Regions from separate parts of the Homo sapiens genome. Here region 2 is linked to region 1. A link means that fine-mapping ties the variant in region 1 to the plasma level of a protein whose gene starts in the linked region. Region 1 holds a variant in brackets. A gene starts in the other region. All regions are shown on their reverse strands.

Region 1 (10,901 bases):
CAATAACAAAACTCCAGTCTCCCACACAGCCAGCTCTGTGTAAATTACTCTTTCTCTATTACAATTCCCCTGTCTTGATAAATCCACTCTGTCTAGGCAGTGGGCAAAGTGAACCCACTGGGTGGTTACAAATTTCGAGGCTCATCAGGATTGCCCTTGCAGCTACCTGCCCGTGGTTTGGTAGCCCCTCTCTAGCGATGGATCCAGAGGCTAGCCCAAGCATCTGCCTAGTTCTCTTGGACTAGGGGCTGACTTTGGTACTCTCTACTGGCGGGGTGCTGCCAACCCAATGTGCATGGATTTAATTGCAATGGAGAAATAGTCCTGGGGCGATATCCCTTAACTGTAGCACTATCACAGGGTGTCTGTCTGTAGCTCCATGGTGGGGTGTCTGTCTGCATCCCATTGTGGGGGTCTGGGTTGATGAGCATTCTAGGTACCGCCAATGACCCCTTCCTTCTCCCGACTGGTTCTGTAGCCCCCTGGTGGGGTGTCTGTTTGTCTGTAGCCCCATTGCGGGGTGTCTGTCTCAGTTTGGCTCCTAGGGGGTCTCTGTTGGCTCTCCCTAACTAGTAGGAAGAATCTTGGTTGGGGAGACTTCTTCTCAGTCCAGAAGATTTTGGGGAGATTTCTCAGACAGAGAATAGGAAGATAGTTTGGGAGGGATACTCTTGAGTTCTTTGTTGGGGATCTGATTTGGAAGGCCTTCTGTCTGTCGTGTCTTTGTGTGTGTTTGTATATGTGGAGGGGATCTCAGAAGAAATTGCTGATGGAAGTCCAGCAGGCCTAACTTGGAGAATCCTCCTTATTTGTCTGGTCACATTTGGTGAGCCCTGAAGAAAGCTCGATAGGCCTTTCTCGGGGTGACTATTGGCTCTTTGCCTTGCCCAGAGACCCCACTGTGAATTATCATTTGGAGGTCATCCCTCCCCAGCTGGAATGGATCAAAGACAACAGGGACCGTCTGGAGAAAGTTTGAGCTTTGCTAGGTTGATATTGGGTGCTGAATGGGGTGACTAGTGTCTGTTTTGTTTTGTGTATTTTGCTGGGATGGAAAATGTTCATTCAGTTCCCCAATGCAGCCCATTGGGCAACATCTTGCAAATTGATTATCTTTTGCCTATGGTTCCATAAAACAGAAAAGGGTGATTTTCTTTTGTAAAGTGGCTTGAATCCCACAGCTATGGCACAGCGAGCAGGGTCATCAGAAGGTGCTCCATTCTTCTGGAAGCTGCAGAGAAAGGGAACCCATAAATCTGGTATGCCAAAAAAGGATAAGAAATTCTTACCAGCCAAGTTTCTGGTCTCTCTTTCTCTGTCTGCATAAATGGTAAATGTCACTATATTTGTCTCCTCTGCAAGAGTTTGATTAATAGAAAAATGGATTTGTGAGACTGGTCTTAGGCTGTAGCAAATCTGGTGTACTTTGTACTAAAAGTTTGTCTTTCTATATTCTGTAATGGAGAAAGGAGTATCACAGGATACAATGTGGGTTTAGGATCCCTATAAGCCCATTTTTCAAGCCAACCCAGCAGACTGGTCAATTACAAACTATGCTACGGGTCCCTGAAAACAATACTCGGTAAGATCGGTCTTGTTTTGTGTCCTTAAGAGCTTAACCTTGTGGGGATACTTTATCTTGGTTTCTGCCATCCAGAGGACAGGAATTTTGAGGTTCATGTCACAGCCCTAAGAATTATCTTGAGCAGTTAAAAGCCTTCTCAAACTCAAAATTGGCCTCTCTAGGCTCCTTTTGGGAAAAGCAATAGAAACTGCTCAATGCTGTATAGTTCAGTAACTAAGGGTTTATCTTTTGACAGTGGTGGCCTGGGTTCAATTCTTGGCTTCTGGAATGATTCCTTTCTGGTTTGTTATGTGTGTAACTTTGCCATTTGAGGTTTTTATGGATAGCTTCTGATTTCTTCTCTTGAATTTTTCTTTCTCTGAACTACCTTAGGGAGATTCTAAATCTAGTAAAAAAGAAACTGCTTACCATGCCTTTGAAGCACCTGGGAGGTTGGTTACTTTTGGTAAAGTTCAAAAGCCAGAAATATTGACTGCATGGATAAAGTCAGGTAATCAGAGATGTGAAAGGATTTTTTTAAAGACCACTATGGTTAAAAGTCAACTTAATTAAAAGTGCATAAGCAAGCTGTAGGTATATTTAAAAGGTCTTTATGCTTTTCTTTTCATGGATCTTGTTTTGCTGGAAAAAGGTTTTTTTTTTCTTTTAGTCGACTGAATTATTTTTCTCCATTTTGTCTTACCACTATTAATGCACACATGAGAGGCCCTAAGATAACTTCTGGTAGCCTGAGATTCCTTGGGAAAAACAGAGGAGGTGCTATAGACCCCATTTTGGGAAAAAACCCTGTTTTCCTCATGAAACCCCAGGAATTAAAAGCAGATAGGTCCCCCTCAAAATCTAAGTCTGTTCTGTTTTGCATTGTGCTATCTAACGGTTTTGAGTCTTGGGGGTATCAAAAATTACTTTGAATTATAGGAGGGCTTGATATATAATAACTAGGTAAAAAATATACTTTAAGAATTGGCTAATGTCAGTTATGAAGACATACTTAGCTCTTTGCAAGCTTGGATCAGAGAAACATGCTCTTGGCCACCTGGAAGATACGGAAACATCCCCAACCCCCACTGAGAGATGAGACTCCCATGGGGGATTGGCTGGTTACAAAATGGGCTGATTGGCTTTGGTTTTCCTTGCGATGACATGTGTGGTGGAAGCACTGCACTGTCTTCTCCTGTAGTATTTCTTTCCTTTTTAGGGATCCAGGATACATATAGAATGGCACCCTAATTTGGGGGATCTGTCTCTCCTTTCCAGCTGTGCCTCCTTATTAGGCCCCAGAAACTGCATGGTTTCCTGGCCCTGTTCCTCCACCCTGAAGCCAGTAATCCAATTAAGAAACTGGTAAATAAAAAATCTTACAAGTGCTGAATCTTCTATCTGTCTGTATTCATATGTGTTGTGTGTGTAATATTTACACAAAAAGAACTCTGTTTAATTGGCTTAAAAATAGATGCCGAAATCAAATATTTTGTCAGAAAAAGAGAAACTTTAATGCCTTTTGTACACGTGACTTTAATAATCTTTTGGAAATAAAGACAGTTTTAGAAATTATTGATAAAAACAAAAATGTCTTCAAAATGTAGACATTTGGTCTAAATTAACGTCAGATATCAGATTTACTAAATGTTTTAAGGTTGTAAGCTGTTTCTTTGACTTTTGAAAATTGTTTAATTTGCCTACTTTGGAAAGAGTTAGGCCTTATCTTCACTTCTGTCTGATGTCCTAGACTCCACACCTAGTACATAATTAAAATCACTTATCAGGTTTTCACCAAAAATAAAAGCTGCTAAGAGGTAACATTGTAACATGTAATTGAGACCACTGGAGAAACAGTTCTACATGTAAGGTGTGTAAGGAAAGTAAAAGATTATAGGAAGGCATGGGAATATGGCTTTTATTAAAGGGAATGTTGCCAGACGCGGTGGCTCACGCTTGTAATCCCAGCACTTTGGGAGGCTGAGGCAGGTGGATCACAAGGTCAAGAGATCGAGACCATCCTGGCCAAATGGTGAAACCCTGTCTCTACTAAAAATACAAAAATTAGCTGGATGCGATGGCACATGCCTGTAGTCCCAGCTACTCAGGAGGCTAAGGCAGGAGAATTGCTTGAATCTGGGATATGGAAGTTGCAGTGAGCCAAGATTGCACCACTGCACTCCAGCCTGGTGACAGAGCAAGACTCCATATCAAAAACAAAACAAAACAAAAAAGGAATATAATTTTGTCTAGTTCAGAGGGTTTAAAGATTATCTTAACCTAAAAGAGTAATGGGACAAAACTGGAGGTTTAAACAAAGTGAAAAGGGCTTATGAAGGGTTGGTCTTGTAAAAAAAAGTTCTGTGGGTATGAGCAAGTTGGCTAATATTGGAAGGGGATTATTTAATTTTTTTTTCTGTAGGTTGAACATTAAAATAAAAGCACACGAATACAGGGCCAGAATCTGAGCCCAGGTGTCCAAATAACAGGGTTTTCTTAGAAAACTGATCGACTGTTTAATGAAAAATTATAAAGTGTTCAAAAAAGTTTATGAAAATCTTACCTTATGGTCAGACTAATTAAGACTGAATACATTTGTAAATTTTTATTGTAAAACCAGCCTTAGCATTAAAAATGCACTAATACAAACATTAAATTTGGTTTTCTCTTTTGAAAAAGATTTTTATGTAAAAGATTTTTTACATAAAAGATTATGTAAAAGATTTTTTATAGTAAAAGAAAATGAAAGGGTTTTGTTTGCCCCTTTGGGTAAACTACAGGGAAAAAGGGGAGGAGAGAGAAGATACGATTCAGTTGGCCTCATGCTATCTTCATTGGGTCTTCTTGTTTGGAAAGCTATGTCTCCTCTATCAGAGTAAAGGGTTTTTCTTTTTAAAATTTTGGAGTTATCATTTTGGTCAAATGAATGACTTATGGTGACCTGGGATTCTATTTTGTGATATCCACAAAATAAATCTTTGATATTTGACAAACTTTCCAAAATCAAATTATAAATTATAATTTGATTATAATTATGTCTCTTTCTAACCTAATCTTTTAGATATTAGGTCCTCTAATGTCCAAAAATGACATCTGGCTTACGTGGTATAAAAATCATACAGGAAGCATTGTCAAATATAAAATGTTGTTTGGCTTTCTTTGGGCTGTATTTGTATAAATATGTTATTAGTATGTGTTCCAAAATTATGAGAAACTCCTATAATTCTGATATGATTGAATGTATGCTGTTAATATAATAGTTATAATTTGTATGTAAAATTGTTGTATGCCACAGAAGTAACCAAATTCCTAGTCAACTGTGGCTTTAATAATGGCCGTCCTAAGATTTGTTGTCATCCACAGACAATTGTTGTCATCCACAGACAATTGTTGTCTTGTTTGATGCTCTTCAAAAGGTGGTTTATAATCAGCTCTAGAACTTTGACAGGTGCTCTTGAATTCAGGTTTCCAATAACTTTGGAGAATGTGACATTAGAATAGAGGAAATAACTTCCAGGACTCTCATGGGGAGCTGAAATGTTCATAAATATCAAACAGAACAGGAGTTAATGGAATTGATTGAACTAATAGAAAACTGAAGTAATCTTTTTTTTTTTTTCTTTTGAAATGGAGTTTCGCTCTTGTCTCCCAGGCTGGACTGTTGTGACATCATCTCGGCTCACTGCAACCTCTGCCTCTCGGGTTGAAGTGATTCTCCTGCCTCGGCCTCCCAAGTAGCTGGGATTACAGGTACTCACCACCATGCCCATCTAATGTTTGTATTTTTAGTAGAGATGGGGTTTCACCATGTTGGCCAGGCTGGTCTCGAACTCCTGGCCTAAGGTGATCCACCCACTTTGGCCTCCCAAAGTACTGGGATTACAGGTGTGAGCCATTGAGCCTAGCCCAGTAATCTTTTGTATTAACTTTTTTGCTTAAAACATTGCTGATCCTTTTTGTTTTCCAGAGCCAAGAAAACTTTTCTTTTAAGCTACTTACAGCTTTTAACAGTTGAATAAAATATACTCCTGTGAAAAAATTTGGAGTATATTTGTTTCTCCCTACCTGATTTTTCCAGAATTTGGAAACTATTTGTGAATATTCTCAACATATGGCAGTATAGTTATTTGCATAAGTACAATGATAATCTGTTTTCTTTTGTAACAGGACACAATGGGAGAAACTGGTTATTTTATCAAGGCTTTGACTAGAATGGCATGCTTTTTTTAAAGAATCAAAGTTGGCTGGGCGAGGTGGCTCATGCCTGTAATCCCAGCACTTTGGGAGGCTGAGGCAGGCGGATCACCTGAGGTCAGGAGTTTGAGGCCAGCCTGGCTAACATGGTGA[G/A]ACCCCATCTCTACTAAAAAGAAAAAAAATTCCAAAAATTAGCTGGGCATGGTGACAGGCGCCTGTAATCCCAGCAACTCTGGAGGCTGAGGCAGGAGAATCACTTGAACCCGGGAGATAGAGGTCACAGTGAGCTGAGATCGTGCCATTGCACTCTAGCCTGGGGAACAAGAGTGAAACTCTGTCTCAGAAAAAAAAAAAAGGAGAATCAAAGTTGAGTTATTGAGCTAATAAAAGCCCCTTGGGAAATCTGGCCTTATACCTTGTCTACACAGTCCCTGTTCAAAGTTCCTGACCTGTGGTAAGTAAAGAATGTCACTTTCTAACAGTCTCAGGAGACCCAAGTTTTCTTGGGACCTCAGGAGGAGAGAAATTTACCCAACTCATAGGTATTTGAGTGTACAAACCCATGGCTGGGCTTAGCTTTAAAAAAGTCTTATTTGAGATTCCTTACAGAACAGAGTTCCATCAAAGCCAATTTTAAAGGCCTATGTGAAAAATAGTTATTCTTGGTGTGCTTTGTGCAAATAATCAGGCCAAGTATAATAAGACTAAAGTTTATTTTGTAAACAAATCATTCTATCATGATTTGTTTTTAATAAAAATGGAGACTGAAGAGAGAAAAATTATGCTTCAAAAGAAAAGCTATAGTATACCTGTTGTTCGCTGTTCTTGAGTTTTTCGGCAGTTTGGACAAAATCCTAAATTTTTGTGGGCTACAAGTCTCCAAACTAATGCTTTCAAATCTTTACTTTTAAAACTGGGAATTACACTCCTTACTAGCTCCCTTTTGCCTTCCGCCTTGAGTGGAAGCAGTCTGAGGCCTAACCAGAAGCCCTGCAGATGGGGGTGCCATGCTTCTCGTACAGCTTGCAGAACTGTGAACCAAACATCTTTTGTTTATAAATTACTAAGTCTCAAGCATTCTGTGAAGGCAACACAATAGACTGGGACAGTATCAGAACTGGTCCTAGTGAGGTCCTTGTGAGACCTCTATAGCATGTGCTTCCTTTTAAGTTAGATTTAGTCTGCCATGACTGTGAGAATATCTGAACTACATTGATGAGCTTGGAATTACAATATTATATAAATTGCATTGTCTTGAAAACTAATGGTATTTCCTGAAATGACTCATCCCTGAACTCGATGGAGAGCTTTATTTTTTTCTTGCCACACTCTGTAACTTTGCAGTATAAGAAGTTAACCTAGGCTTGGCTAGTCGCCCACCCCTGTAATCCCAGCACTTTGGGAAGCTGAGGTGGGAAGACTGCTTGAGCCCAGGAGTTCAAGAGCAGCCTGGGCAACATGGTGAAACCCCATCCCTACAAAAGAATGTAAAAGTCATCCAGGCATGGTGGTGCACGCCTGTGGTCCCAGCTACTGCAGAGGCTGATATGGGAGGATCACTTGAACCCAGGCAATTGAGACTGCAGTGAGCCAAGATCATGCCACTGCACTCCATCTTGGGTGACAGGTTGAGACCCTGTCTCAAAAAAAAAGAAAAGAAGAAGAAGAAGAAAGAAGAAGTAGTTACCTATGCTCGTAATCACATAGGGCACTAGGGCAGGTGCCCAGGCACTGCAGGGTAAGGCCTAACGGAATTATGGCTCCGGGCTGGGTGCGGTGGCTCACGCCTGTAATCCCAGCACTTTGGGAGGCCAAGGTGGGTGGATCACCTGAGGTCAGGCATTTGAGACCAGCCTGGCCAACATGGTGAAACCCCGTCTCTACTAAAAATACAAAAAATTAGCTGGGTGTGGTGGTGCACACCTGTAATCCCAGCTACTACAGAGGCTGAGGCAGGAGAATTGCTTGAACCTGGGAGGCAGAGGTTGCAGTGAGCCAAGATTGCACCACTTCACTCCAGTCTGGGTGACAGAGTGAGAATCTGTCTCCAAAAAAAAAAAAGGAATTATGGCTCCAGGAGGATAAGTGTAACCCACCTTCCCTGTAAGGACAAAGGAAAGAGGGGCATTTGGCTGGAGCTATTATGAGCCCATCACTGGCCAGTGCCCAATTCTGGTACTTGCCACAACAAGGTGATCTGGGGACCAGGTAACCATCCCTGGGTAACCCTGGTGTCCTCTCTGAAGGCTGCTGGGGAAGGAGCATGAAGCCTGCTGCTACCTGGTCCTGCTCCTTGCTGTGTCCCAGATTCCACAGGGAAGGAGAAGGGGAATAGCTCTTAGGTCCCTATGGCAGGCTGGGATTTATGACTTATTAGACTTCACCTTACTTAGTGACACTGTTTAGGACTTTCGGACCACATCACTGATCTGGGAGAAGGAATGGCCAGCATTGCTATCCCCATTTTGCAGATGAGGAAATTGAAAGACTGAGGTGATATTCCTGGCCACAGGCCACATCATTCGACGGGGCAGGGCTGAGACACAGGCTCCCAGCCAGCACTGTCCTCTGCTCCCTGGCGATTTACAGGCATTTACAGGTGCCAGGCTCACTGCCCAGAGGTGTCAATATAAACATGATCCTTATCTGGGCTCCACACAACTCTCCTATCTGGCCTCCTCCTCTACCCCCTGAGCCTTTCTTTTTCTTTTTTCCTTTCTTTCTTTCTTTTATTTTTTTTTTGAGACGGATTCTGACTCTGTCGCCCAGGCTGGAGTGCAGTGGCGTGATCTCGGCTCACTGCAAGCTCCGCCTCCCAGGCTCACGCCATTCTCCTGCCTCTGCCTCCCCAGTAGCTGGGACTACAGGCGCCCGCCACCAGGCCTGGCTAATTTTTTGTATTTTTAGGAGAGACGGGGCTTCACCATGTTAGCCAGGATGGCCTCGATCTCCTGACCTCGTGATCCGCCCGCCTCAGCCTCCCAGAGTGCTTGGATTATGGGCTGAGCCACCGTGCCTGGCCCCACTGAGGGGCGGTAAGCCCGAGAGACTGAGATTCAACCACTTGCCTACCAAGTTCTAGGCAGCATACAAGCCACATCTTCACTCTTGTGATAACATGACAGATGTTTCCACTTCAGCCTCTGAATGATCATGGGCCAAGTCTCCACTTCAGCCTCTGATTGGTAGCAGGCCAATCCTTCATAAGGTTTAGCCAGTTGGAGGAGGCCAGTTTTATCTCATGGCTGCTGAAACAACCTGCAGGGACACTAAGACCAGCTTCACCCACCACCATCACTCACCAGTCAGAGCTTCACCCGCCATCATCCACCAGAGCTTTACCTGCTGCTGTCACTCACCAGTCAGAGCTTTAACCACTGTCATGATTCACCTATCAGAGCTTCACCCACCACATCGCTCACCAATCAGAGCTTTACCTGCCATCGTCGCTCACCAATCAGAGCTTTACCCGCCATCATCACTTACCAGTCAGAGCTTCACCCACTGCTATCACTCACCAGTCAGAGCTTCACCCGCTGCCATCACTCAACAATCAGAGCTTCACCCCGCTGCCATCACTCACCAATCAGAGCTTCACCCACCGCCATCACTCACCAGTCAGAGCTTCACCTGCTGAAGGGGTGGCCAGCTGCTCCACAACCTGTGGGTGTTTCTCGTCAGGTGGGATGAGAGACTGAGAAAAGAAATAAGACACAGAGTCAAAGTATAGAGAAAGAAAAGTGGGCCCAGGGGATTGGTGCTCAGCATATGGAAGACCCGCACTGGCACTGGTCTCTGAGTTTCCTCAGTATTTATTGGTCACTATCTCTACCATCTCGGACAGGGTGATGTGGCAGGACTATAGAGTAATGGTGGGGAGAGGGTCAGCAGGAAAACATATGAGCAAAGATCTCTGTGTCGTAAATAGGTTTAAGGAAAGGTGCTGTGCCTGGATGTGCACGTAGGCCAGATTTATGCTTGACTTTACACAAACATCTGAGTGCATTAAGGAGCAGTATTGCCGCCAGCATGTCTCACCTCCAGCCATAGGGAGGTTTTCTGCTATCTCAGTATTTAGAGCGTATGATCGGGTTTTACACCAAGACATTCCATTCCCAGGGACGAGCAGGAGACAGATGCCTTCCTCTTATCTCAACTGCAAAGAGGCCTTCCTCTTTTACTAATCCTCCTCAGCACAGACCCTTTATGGGTGTCGGGCTGGGGGACGATCAGGTCTTTCCCTTCCCTCGAGGCCGTATCTCAGGCTGTCACATGGGGAGAAACCTTGGACAATACCTGGCTTTCCTAGGCAGAGGTCCCTGCGGCCTGGCCTTCTGCAATGTATTGTGTCTCTGGGTACTCGAGATTAGAGAATGGTGATGACTTTTACCAAGCACGCTGCCTTCAAGCACTTTTTTAACAAAGCACATCCTGCACAGCCCTAAATCCATTAAACCTTGAGTCAACACAGCACATGTCTCTGTGAGCACAGGGTTGGGGCTAGGGTTACAGATTAACAGCATCTCAAGGCAGAAGAATATCTCTTAGTACAGAACAAAATGGAGTCTCTTATGTCTACTTCTTTCTACATAGACACAGTAACCGTCTGATCGCTCTTTCTTTCCCCCACAACCCGCCGCCATCACTCATCTGGTAGAGCTTTGCTCACCACCATCACTCACCAATCAGAGCTTCACCCGCCACCATCACTCACTAGTCACAGCTTCATCTGCCACCATCACTCATCTAAGCTTTACCCACTGCAGTCATTCACCAATCAGTGTTTGCCAACTCCCTAGAACCTTACTAGTGCCAATGAAGTTTCTGGAAAAACAGTATGTGACATTTTTCATTTTTATAAAACCTCTAACAACTGAGCACGATGGCTGACAGGCGTGAGGTGGGAAGATCACTTAAGGCCAGGAGTTCAAGACCAGCCTGGACAACATAGTGAGACCCCCCTGTCTCTACTAAAAATCAGAAAAATTAGTCAGGCATGGTGGCATGTGCCTTGTAATCCCAGCAACTTGGAAGGCTGAGGTAGGAGAATTGCTTGAGCCCAGGAGTTGGAGGCTGCAGCGAGCTATGATTGCACCACTGCAGTGCAGACTGGGCAATAGACCAGACCCTGTCTCAAAAAAAG
Region 2 (10,901 bases), not on the chromosome of region 1:
TTAGAAACTTGCTAGGGGTGTGTTTCTTTTCATTTTAATAGGTTGATTGTCTAGACTTACACTGCCCAGTACAGTAGCTGCTAGTCACATGTGGCTATTTAAATGTAATTTTAAACTAAATATAATTAAAAATGTAATACCTCAGCCACATTTCATGTTCTAGTGGCCACCATATTGGGCAGCAGATACAGAACATTTCCATCATCACAGAAAGTTCTATCTGACACCGCTGTTCTAGATACTTAGGGAATTTGACTTTTATTTGTCTTTCCAGGAAGAGAGACATCATGCAGAATATTGTACAGATTTTGGAATCGGTACAGTTGAAATGGGAACTTTTTCAGAGCTGGACAGACTTTTCAAGGCTCCATCTTTCTAATAAACTGGCCATTTTTGGAATTGGTTATAACACCCGTTGGAAAGAGGATATCCGTTACCATTATGCTGAGATCAGCTCCCAGGTGCCCCTTGGCAAGCGACTTCGGGAGTACTTCAACTCTGAGAAGCCTGAAGGACGGATCATTATGACCCGAGTGCAGAAAATGAACTGGAAAAATGTTTACTACAAATTTTTAGAGATCACTATTAGCGAAGCTAGGTGCTTGGAGCTGCACATGGAAATTGACTGGATACCCATTGCCCACTCCAAACCAACTGGTGGGAATGTTGTTCAATATTTATTGCCTGGGGGTATTCCTAAAAGCCCAGGCCTTTATGCCATTGGCTATGAAGAATGTATTGAGAGGCCCCTCTCACCACACATGGAGCAAAGTTCCCTGGACCCAGGAAAAGAGGGCCGGGTTGACCTGGAAACCCTTTCAGCACAAGCCTCATTACAGGTGGAAATAGAACCCACCCGAATTATCTATTGCTACCTCGGGATTGCTGAGGTCAGGACTCTACAGCAGTGCTTATTTTTACATTTCCAAGCGAATACCAAAACCTTCAGCAAAGATTGGGTTGGTATTAACGGGTTTTTGTCTCAGAACTGTATTGTGGATCCCGGAGTTTCCCCCAAATCCATCTACATCAAATTTGTAGAAGTAGAGAGGGATTTTCTTTCCGCAGGCTCTTTAGTTGAGTGCCTGGAAAAAGCCATTGGATACCCCTTAAAATTTAACAACTGAATGTCATCCTTCATAAGGATTTGGGCTCTTAGCTCCTTCTTCTCTACTCACTTCCCATTACCCGGACCACCCCTCATCCAGATGCCGCCGTCAGACTCTTCATGGAAACCCTTTCTTCAATTGGGCCAGTACGACTTCTAAGGAATCATAGTAGACTTGGGCCAGAAAAAACAGACCTCACCTGAAAATGCTCATTTTGAGCAAGCAAGATATATAGCGAACTTGCATGGTGGGTCAGCTATTTCTTTTTTAAAAACAGAAAAACAATTTTTAAATGGATTTTAGAGCCCTAATATAAACAAATGTAGGTACATTCCATATTGGACAAAACTTATACTTTGAGTTTCATATGAAATTGAAAAATTGTATTTTTTTCACAATGTTTCATTTTTACACATCTCTATGTCTCTATATAAGTAATATTTACAACCCTGAATAAATAAGCAATAGATAATGGCAAGTTAAATCTTGATTCACAGTTAAAAAGACTTTTTCAATATCACCCTTAGCTACTATTGTATATAATTTAGATTTTCATTTTTTTCACCAGCCAAGTGTTTTGCTATTTCCAATCAGTATTGCTTGCAAAGACCTTTGTTTCTGTGATGTACCAACTTTACAGTTGTGTTGCCATTTAAACCTTTTTTTAAAAAAAAAAAATTAAAGTAATTCCTGGCCCCTTGGCGTACTAGTTGAGCTTTTTGTAGCAGAGTGTGGCTGCACTGGCAGTGGGGGCTGCGCTCTGACTTGACTGCTAAGAATGAAGAGAACAAACAGAGCAGGGTATCTTCACATCCTTTCATTCTCTATACCTCACTGACCAATGTCATTATTTACTGTCAGAGTACCAAAGGTCACTGAACATCTCATTTTGTAATTCTTTGAAAAATGACTAAAAATGACTAGGATAATCCTTTTGACCCTAAGTACATCAATTTGTAAGAGACTCATTCCTCATCTTTTACACTCAGTACTCAGGGGCAGCTCTCAAGGAGTACAACTGGAAAACTGATGTAATCTTGCTATCTCTCAAAAGGAAGGAAGATCCAGTAGAAATTTTTTTTTTTTTTTTTTTTTTAAGACAGGGTCTTGCTCTGTCACCCAGGCTGGAGTGCAGTAGTACAATCATAGCTCACTGCAGTCTCGAACTCCTGGGCTCAAGTAATCCTCCTGCCTCAAAGCTTCCTGAGCAGCTGAAACTACAGGCTCAAGTGCCACCACGCCAGCAATGTTTTTCACTTTTTTTTTTCTTTTTTTGGTAGAGACATGGATGGTGCTATGTTTCCACCGAGCTGGTCTCAAACTCTTGTCCTCAAGCAATCCTCCCACCTTGGCTTCCCAAAGTGCCGAGATTACAGGTGTGAGCCACTGGGGCCAGCCCAAAAGTATTCTTTTAGGAGAGGGAATTGAGAAGTATGAGTCCAGTAGGAAGGTAACTGTCATGTTTAGATCTTTCAGAGATTTCTAATGGGCCAACCACCACTCCACTTACAGGTTCGTACTCTTGGCTCAGAGTCGCTTACTAATAGAGTAGTCAAGGATCACTTTGGTCTCATGGCAGGAATTTGTTAGATTGGTTATTTATCTTTATGATTTCCCAGCATCTCAGGTGCTCTACTTTAAGTGAGCCGCAAATCCAGGTAAGAACTCTCGTTCTTCTCATTTTTCTGTACTACTGAAGATATAGTTACATATTAACAAAAAGTGTTCTTTTCCTGCAGCCTGAATGTCTCAAATCAGTGATTTTCTCATTCTGATGCCTGTTGGTTGATTGATGCTTATTTATTTTTGTAATAACTAGAGAGCTTATAATCAGTGAGATGGCTTTTATTTCTGTTATTTGAGTCTGGGGTTATGGAGTTGGGTACTAGTTCAGGGAGGATATAAATAAAATGAGAATGTTTTGAGTGTAGCACCTGTTCTCCCCAGGCAGCATCTATAGTCAGAGGCCTGAGGAAATCCTCTTGAGTTTGCTCTTCTTTGGAACTTAGAATTCTGATCCTAATGGCTGAGGCAGTCTTGACCATCTTTTAGCCATAATCCCATAGTATTCATTGCTAAATGCTGTAGGAAGAAGGATTATTACCAGGAATTCTTCATGGCATCTCTAAAACGTTGCCACTGACGAGTCCCAAAACTAACATTATGCTCCATGCATTTTTTTTCTGCATCTTCCCATTGTTATTAGTTGCTCAGCTGGAGCAGAACATTTGGGGAACATTTCGTGAGGATGTTTTAGACCTACCAAACATTACCGAGAATGGGACATTGCTAGACCCACTATGAGCAGCATGGAGAAGATAGCAAAGGCTGGATCCAATAGATGTTTTCATCATTTGCCTTGGGATGGGTGGGGGTAGAGGACAAAGATGAGCATTGGGAAATGGAGGTTTACCAAGAAAGTAGCTTGCTGATACTGGATCTCCAGTCTCTTTGGCCAGAACAGTCTAGAAAAGAAGATAGCAGGATGTCAGATAACTATGAGCACTGCCGAAAATAAGAAATGGAATATTTAGACCTTAATGAAGCCTTATAACTGATTCAAGGGGGACAGAGAAAGTATATTCAAATGTAAAGGTAAATATTAGGAATTACTTTCGGAATCTAACATGAGATGTGATTGGAAGAAACACTAATGACCTGCAAGTCTCTAACATATGAAACTATGAACTAGCTCTTGCACACGTTTATGTAAGCAGTTCCCAGGTCGCACATAGATCATCTGTGTCAGCATTCATGATTTACACCAGGGTGGAGAGCAGTCCACCCTAAAATGCATCTTGGTGAAAACTTTCACAAAGTAATGGAGCTGCTCTGCTAACTTCTACGACTTGACTGCCCTCAGGGTCAGAAGAAAGAAATAGCTGAAATAGGAGACAGGAGACAGTGAGGACAATTCTTTACGGTCAAAGAATCTTGAAGAGACTGCCCCTGTGTCACATGGAGACATTCACTGACTACAAATCATTGGTTGCAGCTTTACTTCCCATGTCACAAGTCATTTGGGATCTGAATTCTGAAGGAAAAGTTAGCTACAGGGAATGAATGTTGAGGCTACACCTTATGTAGCACTTGATCAGGATAAGCACAGCCTGTGTGATTAGATACTTGGTGTTTCTGGGTTAGAACCAAAAGACTTTGTACTTCCTCTCTTGGAAGGAGTTACTTATTTGGGGTGACTTGTCTGGAAACAAAGGAGGGGTGTTTACAAGAGATGGTTTGCAATGCAGACTAAAGCCAAGAAAAATTTGAGTGTGATGGAATAGGAAAACCAAACCAACAGCCCCCAACCCCACCACACAATCTGCTTGGCCAAGTCCAAGTTTGTAGCTCCCTACACAAGAGTGTGAGACTGGCAGGTATCTCTTCCTGTTGTCTGTGCCTCCACTGAGCTGCCAAGTACTAGATTCTAGGGTTTGCATGAGCAGTTTTGTGTTTGCATAGGCATTTCTCAAAGCCACTGCATGGCAGGTATTTGAAGAGGAGCCAGGCAGGTCACACTAGAAAGAAGCAGCTGAGAGGGCATATGGGGCACTGTATAGAAAAAGATCTTGTGTGAAGTGTGGGCCCAGGGACTACACTCTGTTAAAACAGCAAAACTATGTGCAGTAAATGGAATCCCGCAGGCCTGGCTGCTTTTCTTCCCAGACAGCTCTGCCCGCAGAGCGGGCAGCGTCAGGAATTCGTTGTTATGCTTTCTTCCCTCACTGACCTTTGCTGGGTGGTTGAGCTGTGCTGGGATGTTTGAAGCATTTTTTTTTTTTTTTTTTTTTTTTTTTTTTGGCTGTTGGACAGAAAAGCAAGAACAGGTGCGTGCCTTTCTGTAAGGGAGCGGCGGCCGCCAGAGGGCGCAGAGGTGCCTTTTGACCGAATGGCGCGGGAAGGGGGGCGTAAAATTCAATTCACAGCGACCAAGATCTAGTCTCGGGAATTAAAGGATCAGAGCGCGCCTGAGCCTTTCGCTGCGGGGATGGGAGGCACTGAAGATTTGGGGGATAAAGAAGAAACGGAGGGACTGTCCTGTCTTCCTTCCCGCAGCCGCCCCTCCTCCCCAGTCAGCATCAGGCCCGTACGCCGCTCATTTCAGGGGCTAAGCTGGGAGCAGCACGCACGTTGCCTCAGTTTCCTGCTCAGCTCCCGGGACTACCTTGTGCCAACCTTCCCTGCTCGGAGTATGAGGCACAGGCCGGGGTAATCCTCCAGCCTGGGCTGGGGTCTGCTGAACTCGCGGAGCGCTTTTTCCTGCCCGCGGGTGAAGATTCCCCGCTGGCGCGTCCCGGGGCGCCCTGGGCTCCCGCGCGACCTCTGCCGTCGCCCTCGCTGCCGCGCTCCGGTGGCCGCGCAGCCCCCGCCTCCAGGAAAGCCACAGATTCCCGCTGTGCCAGGGAGCCCGCGCGGCCGGCGCTCCGGCCTCTCCCTGCAGCTGGAAAACGCTGCTCCCCTCTTCCTCCTTCAGGAAGACCGCCCTGATTGGGCCGGGGATGCGGCACCCCCAAGTTTGGAGCCAGAGCCCAGGAGCGTTTACATGTCAGGTGTTACGGGTGGTTCTGACTTCGGATAGTCCCCAAATTTCCCACCCTTCCTGGTCACCCTTCCTATCCCACCCCGGCGGAAGGGAAGGTTACGGCTCAGGATAGTTCTGGAGCCTCCTCTTCCCCCTCTACTCGTACCTGGCTGGCTCGTGGGGCATCAGAGCTTACCTCACCCCTCCCTGCGTCCAGACCTGGAGGAGGCCGCAGGGTCCCGCCGTCCGCGCGCTGGGGGCGCCCCCGGGCGGCGGACCCCGCGCGCCCCGCCCGGGAGGACGGCGACCTCTCCGCCCCCTCGAATGCCCCGCCCCGCTGTCGCCGTCGGTCCCCACCCCGCCACCGGCACACAGGCGCGCAGACTTGGGCTGGAGCCGCCCTGGGTGTCAGCGGCTCGGCTCCCGCGCACGCTCCGGCCGTCGCGCAGCCTCGGCACCTGCAGGTCCGTGCGTCCCGCGGCTGGCGCCCCTGACTCCGTCCCGGCCAGGGAGGGCCATGATTTCCCTCCCGGGGCCCCTGGTGACCAACTTGCTGCGGTTTTTGTTCCTGGGGCTGAGTGCCCTCGGTGAGTGAAACCCGGACCTGGAGGGGACTTGGGATGCGGGATGGGGTGAGTTCGACCCTGAGGGAGAACTTTGGCCACTGCTGCGGAACTGGGTCCCACGACTCGCCCTCCTCCCCTGACCTCCTAATCCCACTCCAGGGCATCACTGGCTGGCGCTGACTTCTCGCTTTGTCGGGGACAGCCCCCAGTTTGGGTGTGGGGGCGGATGGCGGGGGGAGGTAAGGGCATCTCTCGGAAGACCTGGATACCTCTGGGGTGAGTTATCGGAACCATTCCTCACCCTGTCCACTCCCCACCCCCCACCCAGCAGAGCCGGATGAGCTGAGCCGCTAGATGAGACACTGGCTAAAGAGCTTAAGGACTTAACTCTAGCCCCCTCTCATCCCCGACCCCACATACAAGCTGATGAGGAAGATCCCCCGGGGAAATACCCCTGGTCCCCAGGCTTGACACACGCACTTCGTGTCAATTCCCCAGCGCAGATGCTCTCTCTTGCCCCCTCCTGCTTCCTGCCCTGGGAATCAAGGGAGGTGCCCCAAAAGGACGACCGTGAGGTCATTTGGGACACAGGAAATGGGGGAGGGGTTCAAACGCACAGAGAAACAGAATTGTGACCACCCCACCCCCCCAAGGCCCACCACCCTTATTGGTTTCCAGAGCCAAAGGGAAGAGGGGAAATTGGGAGGAGGGTGGCCAAGGGTCAGAGAGGAAGGGAACCTCCTTGGAGCAAGTGTTTGGGAAGTGTTGTAGGCCTCCAGGGGCGCTGGCTTCAGCTGAAGCTGGGGTGGCTCAGAACTCCATCTGGGAGAGGACCCGGCAGGACTAGGCCCTTTTAAACTATTTCACTTGCTGTCCCTCAGCTTTCTTGCCATCTCCCTTCAAGGATCTCGAATGGGAGTGAAGGGTGGGTTTAGCTATATTGACTTTAACTCATTTCTCAGGTTGGAGGATGTCAGGACAAGTAAGGCCTGGGAAGCTGTAGAGTGAAATTCTACAATGATGGGGACAGAGATGAGGATCACCAGTGTCCCCTTTAGCATGTTCTGTGCCCCACAGGTGTCGGGGCATGCAATATTATAGTCCTTGGACAAAATGAGTCTCAAGTACAGCCCCCCAGGCCACACCAAGGCCACAAGTAGCCTTCTGTCCCTCTGGGCTTGGTGGGCCTGCTCCAGGATCCCTCAGACTTCTCATCCCGCCTTTCCCAACTTCAACTTCAGCTCTGTTCCTTCTGCATTCCACCCCAACTCTATCCCCCTTCCTTGTGGGGGGTGGGGGCTGGGGGAATCTCTGAAGCCAGGGAGGACAGTTCAAGTTGACTGCCTGAGTGTCCCAGGCTTCACCTGCTGCTCATCTGCAACCCTTTGTCCTACCCCAGCTTTGAGCCTCAGTTTGTCAGACTGAAGACCTGGACTCAAAAGTTCCAATCGGTCCCCCTGGGGGGTTGCCCAGTTCCCGCCAGCCACTCGAGGGTTAAATGGCACTGGTGACCCCGGTGCAACGTGCAGGCGCCCGGCTCCGCTCTTCTGGGCTCTGGAGGAGGCTCTCCGGCTCAGTAGGCTCCTCGGCGGCTCAGTGCTGCTGCCCCTGGGGCGTGAGAAGCCCGCGGGGGGAGTTTCTCAGAGAAAGAGGGAGACTAAAAATAGCCCCGGGGAGCGGGCCCATTTCGCTCTCCTTCGGCCCCTGCCGGCTCCCTCACTCTGGCCTCGGAGAGGGCTGTGGGCCGGAAGGGTCCCTTTCTTGGGCTGTCCCAGTGTCCTTCGATCAGACCCAACCAGACTCCTTTTCTCTCCCAGTGGCTCCGTGGACCCTGGGACCGAAAAAAACGGACCAGTTGGTGACTTCCGAGCCAGCAGACACCCAGGAGGGAGAGCAGAAAAGCCTCAGGCCCTCTTCTGTTCCTAGTTTCTGACAGGGCGAAGGGCAAGGAGCATGTGCCCAGACCCCAGTGTGTCCGTTACTATCTCTTTTAACTCTCCTCTACCTTCTGGAAAGTGGAATTATAAATGTGGGACCTGGGGAGGTCGCTGGTGGTCCACAAGGTGAAGGAAGGGCGCGCCCCTTCTGGGCCCCAGGCAGTTTCCCGGCGGAAACCCTTTCTGGCCGCCGGGTGTGTGTCGTAGAAAGGCTGGGGGAGAGCCGGCAGCACCTGCAGGCTCCAGGCGTGCCCGGCCTCAGCGGAATGGCCAGCGGGCCGGGTCCCCAGGGGGCGTCCAGCTCCTTGAGGCGGGGATTGTTTCCTCCCGTAGAGCCTCCGGTCTAGTGGCCCCCCCTTCATTGTCTTCTGCCTTATCACTGGGTACAAATTTCCTGCCCAGACCACAGAGATCCTCCAGGAAATGGGAAGGGGGATGCTGCGAAGGCCAAGTAACAGAGGTGGGGGTTCTGTACGGCGCAGCCGGGAAGCGGTGGGGGAGGCTTGCATCCTGGCCGGATCGGCTCCCAGCCCTTAGAGGCCTTCAGCCTGGCTCTCCTAGGGCGAGGGTGGAGAGCGGGGCCTGGCTGCGGCCTCTTCCCGCGGCGTTGGCCGCCTGCTCGCCACGCGGAGGTGGCGTCTTCCGCTCCGAGGCAGAGGGCCGAGGCCTGGAGGGAGTAGGGCCCGGGACTGGAGCGGCGATCATCCTCAGGCCTGGCCGTGTGCAAGCCCAAGGTTATTCCCCAAAGGGCTTACCAGTTGGCTGCTCTGTTGCCTCCCCGAAGGGCAAAGGATGAGTATTTCTGGACGCCGTGGTGCAAACGATGGCCCCCTCCTTGAAACCAACACCCCGGTCCACCCCCTGAGCGCCGGACACACTCAGGGGAGGCTTCATACTTGTCTAGAGACCGTCGTTCGCGCTGCCCTTAATTCCTTGCCACCCGAGAGTTCTCTGCCCAGATCGCCCGAACCCCAGAAGGGCTCCGAGGAGCTTTCTGGGTTTCAACCCTCCGTTTTCCGAGGGAAGCCCGCCTCTGAGATTGCGCGGGAGGGCGGGGAGCATCGCATTCACTGGGTCAGGCTTGGGCGCTGGGCTGCTCTGCTCTCTCCAGCTCCTGGCAAGCTCAGAAGGAGCCGCAGGGTTAATAGGTAACCAGACGGCCTCCCAAACCCCTCCGCCCTTTGAGAACTCGGGAGTGAGGGACCCTGGCGGCCCGGAGCAGCATCCCTACTCTCCCTCAGGAAAACTAGGGAAGCAAGTGGGCTACGTGGCGCGTACGACAGAAACAGTCGGTCCACCCTTTCTTCTCATATCTTCCCCTCCTCGCTGGAAATCTGCCCCCTCTCTTTGATGCTCAGAAATCTGCGCCTCTGGATACGAATAAATGCATATAAATGTGTCCCCATCCCCGCTACAACTGCAGAGGCTGGCGGTGGAGAGAAGTCGTGATGAAATGGGAAGCAGGACACTGAGCCAGTGGTCCCTGGGCACCCCTTGAGGCCTCCAGGGGCCGGACCCCGCAAGGTTCCTCTTTCCAGTTAAAGCGACTTTCCTCGCTCTCTGGTGAAGCCGCGTAGGGCAGGGTCCGCGGGCGGAGCTGGGAGCCGGTCCTGGGCACTCACGCCTCGCTCTTGTCTCCAGCGCCCCCCTCGCGGGCCCAGCTGCAACTGCACTTGCCCGCCAACCGGTTGCAGGCGGTGGAGGGAGGGGAAGTGGTGCTTCCAGCGTGGTACACCTTGCACGGGGAGGTGTCTTCATCCCAGCCATGGGAGGTGCCCTTTGTGATGTGGTTCTTCAAACAGAAAGAAAAGGAGGATCAGGTGAGGGAAGAACGCCTGTCAGCCAGCGGCAAGTTGCGCCCAGAGGGGGTTGTAAGCAAAGAGCTGGTAGCGGTGGGAGGGGTGGAGAGGGAATGGGGGCCGGGGAAGGAGTTTCAGGGAAAAGCAGAAGTCTTCACCAGTTCAGTTTTTGTTCTGATATTGGAGACTTCCCAAACAATTATCTTTTGCCGGCTTTCCCTAAAAATCCAGCACACAAAATACTGTAAAAGTGTGAGAGGCATTTTACTTGGTTATGAGGGAGGAGAGGAGGAGGGGAAGAATGGAAGTTGAGGACTGGGAAACGCTTAGGGGAAGTAACACACACGACTTATAAAAGTTAGCATATTTCTGGCCTGACTCAGTGACTCATACCTGTAATCCCAGCACTTTGGGAGGCCGAGGTGGGCACATCACTTGAGGCCAAGAGTTCGAGAGCAGCCTGGCCAATATGGTGAAACCCCCGTCTCTGCTAAAAACACAAAAATTAGTCGGACATGGTGGCACCCGCCTGTAATCCCAGCTACTTGGGAGGCTGAGGCAAGAGAATTGCTTGAATCCACAAGGTGGAGGTTGCAGTGAGCCAAAATCCAGCCACTGCACTTCAGCCTGGGCGACGGAGTAAGACTCTGTCTCAAAAAAAAAAAAAAAAAAAAAAGTTAGCATATTTCTGTTTTCACATTCTCTGCTTTGAATACTGTCAAGTCACAGGCCACTTCTCTTCCCAAATGATTCTCATCTGTCACCTTGCCCCCCTGTATACCACCTTGAGAGCCAAGGGGCCATCTCCTCCCACAATCTCCCACCCATCTGTTTTGACACCGGGCTTACATCCAAATACAGATTTACCCCAGAAGAGAATGAAACAATGTTCAGAACCCCTGAAAACTGTGTTCAAGGAAGTCAGCTGGATTTTTTTGAGACAGGGGTCTTACTCTTGTTGCCCAGGC

Direction of the effects. Alleles are on the strand shown, and positions count from the first base shown. The strength of an association depends on the size of the effect and on how common the allele is.
For the plasma level of the protein whose gene starts at base 6,013 in region 2, allele G in region 1 goes with a higher level than allele A (strong association).

What was found. PIP is the chance, under the fine-mapping model, that this variant and not a neighbour inherited with it causes the effect. The UK Biobank Pharma Proteomics Project read protein levels with antibody pairs (Olink). The fine-mapping took linkage between variants from a reference panel, not from the people measured, so its PIPs are less certain.
Region 2: ESAM starts here. The variant in region 1 is fine-mapped to the plasma level of the ESAM protein (UK Biobank, PIP above 0.99).

The regions. Positions count from the first base shown.
Region 1 is chr9:133,282,886-133,293,786 of GRCh38, reverse strand. No RefSeq gene overlaps it. Among named protein-coding and RNA genes, the nearest start is that of SURF6, 48 kb to the left of the region's middle. The variant G/A (reference allele first, on the strand shown) is at 5,912.
Region 2 is chr11:124,757,402-124,768,302 of GRCh38, reverse strand. It overlaps ESAM (endothelial cell adhesion molecule), which reads left to right and starts at 6,013. Exons shown (of 7, transcript NM_138961.3): 1 at 6,013-6,218; 2 at 9,776-9,954. The coding sequence starts at 6,149. MSANTD2 (Myb/SANT DNA binding domain containing 2) reads left to right here. Exons shown (of 4, transcript NM_001308027.2): 4 at 275-1,805. The coding sequence ends at 1,127. It overlaps ESAM-AS1 (ESAM antisense RNA 1), which reads right to left and starts at 9,169. Exons shown (of 2, transcript NR_120577.1): 1 at 8,890-9,169; 2 at 2,378-3,574. RefSeq lists silencers at 1,816-2,110, 5,225-5,274, 5,815-6,224 and enhancers at 5,955-6,458, 8,353-8,422, 9,916-10,075.